Homo sapiens: one gene and its partner. The protein of the gene in region 2 purifies or fractionates together with the protein of the main gene of each other region. This does not show direct contact. Each region holds a gene or a part of one and is shown on either strand. Other genes may lie near its edges.

Evidence for each region.
Region 1: the proteins of THSD4 (region 2) and ZNF195 purify together in Homo sapiens (affinity purification with mass spectrometry; 2 studies listed by BioGRID and IntAct, with this or other methods). This does not show direct contact.

Annotation. Positions count from the first base shown.
Region 1 is NC_000011.10:3,358,427-3,362,180, forward strand, and holds part of ZNF195 (zinc finger protein 195), read right to left. Parts: intron 3,464-3,754; coding exon 3,317-3,463; intron 2,363-3,316; coding exon 2,294-2,362; intron 2,140-2,293; coding exon 692-2,139; 3' UTR 1-691. UniProt on the Homo sapiens protein: May be involved in transcriptional regulation.
Region 2 is NC_000015.10:71,776,462-71,780,215, reverse strand, and holds part of THSD4 (thrombospondin type-1 domain-containing protein 4 isoform 1 precursor), read right to left. Parts: intron 2,985-3,754; coding exon 2,842-2,984; 3' UTR 1-2,841. UniProt on the Homo sapiens protein: Promotes FBN1 matrix assembly.

The sequences.
Region 1 (3,754 bases), on a different chromosome or scaffold from region 2:
TGTCTTTCACCTTTCACGGACAAGTATATCAGTGATGCACACCTAAGAGAAAAGAATTTCTCATATCTCTGACGCAGCAACAACTGACCATGTGTTTTCACATCAGCACTAGAAATGAAGACACAGCATCTACTGATTTGAGAATAGAATGACATCAATATTCGCTTTTCAAAAATTTAACATTTTTTCAATGCAAAAAAGTATATTTTGAATGTAATTATAACTCTACAAAAACTCAGTCTCATCCTCCTTTTAAACTTAAATATAAATGATCTATTTTAAGTCTAGATGTCTCTGTAGACTCAACACAGGGATTCAGTGTCATTTCTGAACGTGTCCTTGCTTATTTTTCCCATTTAGTGTATTTGCAAAATATCTTTTAGTATGAACTCTAGTGTTTTCTAAGCTATCATTTTTGAACAAATGTTATTCCACATTTATGAGATTTGTTGGGTTTCTCTACAAATTTTCTGAAAGTTTAAGCAACTGATGCAAGTCTTCCATCTAGTATAATTGTAACATTTTTTTCAGAAGAAATACTCTTGTGTGCTCTGGAGACTTATATTTCATGAAAGGTCTTTCAATAGTAATTACATTTATGATAACTTTATTAAGTCTGAACTCTGATGTAAAGTGGGATGCGAGCAGATACTAACGGCTTTGCCTATTTTTATATTTGTTTATTTTTTTCTCAAGTATGAATGCTTTCATGTACAGTCAGGTGTGAGAACTGGGTGAAGGCTTTGCCACACTTTTCACACTTGTAGGGTTTCTCTCCAGTATGAATTCTCTTATGTACAATAAGGTTTGAGGACTGGGTAAAGTTTTTTCCACATTCGTCACATTTGTAGGGTTTCTCTCCAGTATGGGTTTTCTTATGTTTGGTAATGTCTGAGAACCACATGAAGACTCTGCCACATTCTTCACACTTGTAGGGTTTCTCTCCAGTATGAATTCTCTTATGTACAATAAGGTTGGAGGACTGGGTAAAGTTTTTTCCACATTCGTCACATTTGTAGGGCTTCTCTCCAGTATGGGTTTTCTTATGCTTAGTGAGGTCTGATAACTGCTTAAAGATGTTGCCACATTCTTCACACGTGTAGGGTTTTTCTTCAGAATGAGTTCTCTTATGGTTAGAAAGGCTTGAGCAAGTTCTGAAGACCTTCCCACATTCTTCACATTGGTAGGGTTTCTCTCCGGTGTGAATCCTCCTGTGTTCACTGAGGTGTGAGGACTGTGTATAGGCTTTCCCACATTCGTCACATTTGTATGGTTTCTCACCAGTGTGAATTCTCTTATGTTTAGTAAGGTCTGAGAACCACTTGAAGATGCTGTCACATTCCTCACATTTGAAAGGTTTCCCTCCAATCTCATTTCTCTGGTGTTTGGAAGGATTTGGGCTGTGGTTAAAACCTTTGTACCATGTTTCACATTTGGAGAGCTTCTCTCCAGCAAGAATCATCTGTTGATTAGAAAGGCTTGAGCAAGAGATAAAGACACTGCTGCACTCTTCATATTTGCAGGGTTTTTCCTCAGTACCATGCTCATGTTCAGTAAGGTGGGAGCACTGGTTAAATACTTTGCCAAATTCTTCACATCTGTAATGTTCCCCTCCGGCATAAATTCTATTTTTAGTAAGGACTGAGCAAGTTTTAATGACGTTGTTACATTCTTGACACTTGTAAGGTTTCTCTCCAGTGTCAATGTTCTCAGGTTCAGTAAAGTGTGAGCACTGGATAAAGGTTTTGCCACATTCTCCACATTTTTGGAATTTTTTTCCAGTGTGAATTTTCTGATGTTCAGTTAGGAATGAGAGCATTTGAAAGGATTTGCCACATTCTTGACATTTGAAAGGTTTCTCTCCAGTATTACTTATATTACGTCTATGTAAATTTGAAAAGTTATCAAAGATTTTAACATATTTATTATATTGAAAGATTTTGCTATGGGTAGTTGATGAACATTGGTTAAGTCCATTATAATCTTTTTGCAACTTACACTCATCTAAACTTTCCCAGTCTTTCCTTAAATATAAATTATCAAGGCCACAATTTCCATATCCTCTCAGTATTCTTTTTGGGAATGCATCTTGTATGCCCTGCTCTGGCAGAAGGTCTTGGGTAAAATGAGAAGACATAGCTGAAAAAAAAAAAAAAAGTTATCCGACTTACTAGACACAGATGAATACACTTTATGAATCTAATCTATAAAATAATACTGGGTACATTAGCAAAATGGCATAAAAAATACCACAGGCCCTAATTTCTGTATAAACATATAAATGTAACAATACCTAGTGAGAAGATGCATCTGAACTCTAAAAACCATTTCACAGTTTGCAGCACCCCAGGTGAGCACAGTGCTAGGAGCCAGATAAGAAGAAAAACAGTCTGTTACGTTTACCCACTGCAGCCCCCGCTCCTCCGCAGTATAGCATCATGCCTTTAAGAGTACACCCTCAGCTCTTGGCTTCTCCTTCAAAAGAGAAAGCAAATACTGGCACAAGTGTTTTTACTTTTGGCCTTTTGAAGCTTTGGCAAAGATTGGTTTCTGCCCCCTGTGACACGGAGTGCTGAGAGAAATGGTGGTACTCTGAGTGACAGGCTGGGTCTGCTGAGACCGAAAGGAAATACCCATGACAGCGGTAGGAAGGCTGCAGCAGCAGCACCAGGCGACAAGTGTATTGTGTGATTCCAGGGCACTACAAAGAAAGCTGAGAAACCCTCTTTAAATGAAAAATACACACACAATTCCACACAAGACACATCCCAGAACAGGCTTAAGAGGCCTCTAGAATCTGGGCCTATTTGTTTTAGATGACCCCAGGAGAAAGGCACATTATAAAGGTTGTGGCAGGAGGCTTGTTGTTAATGCCTGAATCTCAGTCAAAGATGACATGTACAAAGTATTAGGGTCACATGGCATAATCAAAGAAATAAAAAAAGTTCAGAAATCAACCCTAAAATGATGGAGATGCATAAATTAACTGAAGAAAATAAAATTACCATTTGAATAATGCTCAATGAGTAAAAATGGCAAAACAGCAAACTAAGTAAAATTAGGAAAATAAGGATACCAATAAAAAGACATGAAGTATGAAAAACAGACTGAGAAACTGAGGTATGAAAGGAAATAATTACTGAGAAATTCTCAAAAGTAAGAAAAAAATACAAAAAAATCAAGAAGCTCAACACATCAACTAGTATAAACAAAAAGGGACATAAGACACATTATAACCACAGTTTCCAAAGTCAAAGGAGAAAAGAATCCTGAAAGCAGCAAGTGAAAAGCAAGGTACATGCTCTTAGGAGATTACCAGTGAATTTGTCCACAGAAACATTGAGGCCTGGCTGGGCACGGTGGTTCACACCTGTAATCCCAGCACTTTGGGAGGCTGAGGCAGGCAGATCGCTTGAGCCCAGGAGTTCAAGACAAGCCTGAGTAGCATGGTGAAATCCCATCTCTACAGAAAATACAAAAAAATTAGCTGTGTATGCTGTTGCACACTTGTAGTCCCAACTACTCAGAAGGCTGGAGTGGGAGAATCACCTGAACCTGGGAAGTGGAGGCCGCAGTGAGCCACGATCACACCACTGCACTTCCAGCCTGAGTGACAGAATAAATCCCTGTCTCAAAAAAAGTACAACCTGAAGCAAGAAGGGAATTGGATGAGATAGTCTAATTGCTGAACACAAAACTTCCAAGCAAGAATAATATAACCAGTGTCCTACAAAATCATAAAAAATAAAGGCTT
Region 2 (3,754 bases):
CAGTTAAAGAACAATGGGAAGACCAAGAAGGAGATGGCAGTGACAGAAGAAAGGAGAGGGGGAAATAATGGGCACTAAGAAAGCAGAAAGAGACATATTTGGAGGGAGATGGCTACCGAAATCTGGGCTTTTCTTAGATCCTCTCCAAGGAAAGTTATCACTGGAAATACCCAAGGCCCTGATTGTATGCACTGTGCTAGGGAGAAAGACATTCAGATGCTGAAATAAAAAACTAGGGAATTAGTAAAAATTGGATCTCTAAGACAAATAAATTGATCAAACTATAATAATAATCAAACTTCTAATAATGTATAACCTCTCCAGAGATGAACTCCAAGAACAGCTCAATGGTTTGTTGAAAAAAAAAAAGAGACCCCTGGTTTATGCACTTTCTCCCCAAGGGAGACATGGGGTTGATCCATCGGGTCTTCTTCAATTGCACAGTTGGCAGGCTGGCCATTCCCATGGAGGGTCATTCTCCTTTTAAAGAATGGTTAGGTAACCTTCAGCAGCCATAGGGCACTTTAGACATAAAGAGACAAAGCCATCACTGACCCAGCCCAGCCACGAGAATTCCTGAGTTGGAAGAACCAGGGTGTTCACCTCCCACTCAACAGAGAATTCCCTTTAAGGACAGAGCGCTCTCTCATGTGTGGTGGCCCTTGCCTCTGTTGGGCGGCTTTGATGGCTAGAAGGTGTTCCTTTAACTTGAGCTAAAACAGCCTTTCTCTCTTCCACTCATTGATCTTAGCCTGCCCTCCAGCATGAAAAGAAAACCTCTTCAAATGACTGGCTTGCTTGGAAAGATCTGAGAGCAGCCACATACAGGAACAACTCTCCTCGTGACAAGCAGCAAAACAAGTGGTGAGTGGAAAAGAGCAGGCCCTGAACAGCACCAGTCAATATGCTTGGCCTCTCTGGTCTCTTTTCACTTTGTCGGTTTGGGAGCCTGGGCCTCTGCCAGGATGCTTATCTGTAGGAGTTCCAAGAGAATCAGGAGATGGGGATGCTTTTGGGAAATGATGCCTGGGGCTCCCTAGAAGAGAAGCTGGAAAGCTACCCACAGAAAGGCCAAATAGAATTTCTGAAAGCCCCAGGTTAGTGGAAGCCTAAAGAGCATGTCAGGCCAGGTTGCCATACTGCTTCCAAAAGCTGCAAACCATCATCACAGTGGCAGATTTGTCAGCTAAAAGAGCAAATGGGGGAAACACTTTGCTAAGAATCCAGGCTTGCTCTAAAAGGGAAATATGCTCAGGACCATAAGACAAATTTTCTGTAAGTTTAACATTTGTTTAGCTTGCCATTTTTTCTTAATGGGTAAAACATACATATATTCCTCTTAACTGTTTTCAGAGGGTCCACCTTTCAATATGCACTGCATCCTTCCAGGCCTGCGGCCTCTGGAACTGGATAGTTGGGGAAAGTGAATTGGAAGAGATGGGGAAGGGTCCACAGCTCCTTGTCGCAGGCCAACTGCATTAATGCAGAGCTTGGTGCTCAAGTCTGGGGGTGGGCCATATGGACTGTGAGTCATGGGGGAGGGGAGGAATTTGTGGCCACAGAGGGAAATTCATAAACAAAACCAGAAAGACCAGAAAGAGACTTTTTCTAATACAGCAGTGTTTCGGCTGGGACAGGTTGGCCGGACTCTCCAGGAACGTGGTGAAGAGCGTGGGGGAGGCGGCTGAGGCAGGGCAGAGCCCAGGCTGCAGAGCTGTGTGCTTCACAAGTTGGCTCTGTGGTCGGGAAGGCTCCACGGCCATAAGGACCCTGGCCTTTGATTTCCTGGGAGGAACAGCACTTGGAACGGAGTAAGAATTTCAGGCAATCACCTGGTTTCCCCAATGGCTTTCTTGTCTCACGGACAGTTTAACAAAGCTGGCAGAGTCCTGTAACTAGGATCTGTAACTTTGGGGGTAAGGGCAAGTAGGAACAGACATCCAAAACAACTGAGTGCTGGGATAAAGGCTTGACCGGAAAGATTTCAGGGGCCTGGGCTTTGTTTGCATTCTGGGAAACTTCTCAGTCTCTTGGTCAGAAATGAAGCAGCACCTTTCACATCTAAGTACAGGCCCCAGGCTGGATACTGGTAGATGACTGGGGCGGGGACTCAGCTCTTCCACTGGATGGGTGAATATACCTGGCAGGTCAATTACTTAAGTTGAGCCTCAGTTTCCCTGTCAGTAAAATGGGGATAATGAGTCACCCCCTGCCTCCCATTCTGGGATGTTGTGAGCTGCTAAGGAGCTAGTATCTGTGAGTACACCTGCTAAATAAAGCACAATATTCATGTGAGCTATCTGTGTCATAGGGCAGGAAAACAGTCTAATGTCTTTGAGAATGAAAACAGGCACATCTGGGCTGAGGTCACAGAGGGATGCACGCGTGTCAGCAAGGCTTAGTGGGGCGCTGGGTTGGGGGCGCTGCCTCCTTGGACTCTCCAGGGTGCTAAGTTTAGAAAGACCAGTAGCACCAGGGACGGGGCAGTGCTCAGTCAGTGGCCCATCTGCTGACTTGAAGGTGCCAGATGGGAGCAGGGCTGAGAGCTCCATGTACTTCCCACTGCTTGACTTTCAAAGGGCACCATTAGCAGATGCCAGGTCCAAGGAGGGGATCATCAGTACATGGTGATGCTTAAAGGACTGACTGTGGCTTTCAAACATCTTGTGTAAAAAGCCCCTGGGTACCACGGGGTGCATTCACCGGAGGCAGGGGTGGTGACTAAGTTGGTTGGCAGCGCCTGGGCCAGGGGGCCCGTGGTGGAGCAGCAGCCAGCCAGGCGCACTGCTGAAGCCCCCGGGAAGGCAGTGATGCTGCCCTACTGATGGGGGTGCAGGAGTGTTATCTGCTCCCCAGGAAGCCCGTCTGCCTGTTGGCCACACGGGTGCAGGAGGCACAGCAGGCGGTCTTGTAGTAGTTGTAGACACAGAGTCTTGCCTGGACCACCACGTTGCAGTTGTAGTACTTGTCCTTGCAGTTTTCATCTGTAGCGAAAGAGAATGAACAGAAGACTCCCTGAGCACAAGAGGCAGCCTGGACCAGTGGGAAGAGAAAGGGCAGTGGCTGTGGCTTTAACTCCTGCGCTGCTGTTTATTACCATTGTGGGGTATGAATGTGTGCCAAGGGCTCACAGGTTTTTCTCTTTCTTTTAAACACGATAAGGGAAATAGGTATAGAGAATAAGTTACTCATCTGTGTCCTCACTTCTCTCTGATCACTTCCTCCTTCATCCTCATCACTCCAGAGGTAATCAGAAGTTCCAAATTTGGCGTTTCTTATCCCCAAACATTTCTTTACACTTAAACTCTATGTGAGGGAATCCCTCACCACTCTGTGACATTTAAACATAAAAGATACATACTGTATAAGCTCCTTGGCAACTTGCTCGACATTGAATTTGTGCGATTCATTCATATTTGATGAATGCTATATTTTCATTATTGAATTTTCTTGTGTATATAATCCACAATTTAATCATTTTCTATTGATGGACATTTAAGTTGGACATTAATCCAATTTTTTTTTTCTAGTGCAAACAATGCTTTTAAGTAGTTTTGTTACCATCCTCTGCCTGGGCCTTGCTGGGTCATAAGGTATATCCAACTTTGCTAGATACAGTCAGTTTGCTCTCCAAAGTCGGTATAACTGTTTATGTTCCTGTCAGTGAAACAGAAGAATTCTCTTTTTGCCATATGTTTTAGTTTTTGCTGAGCTAGTGAATGTGAAATGATTCCCACGTGAGGCTGAACATATC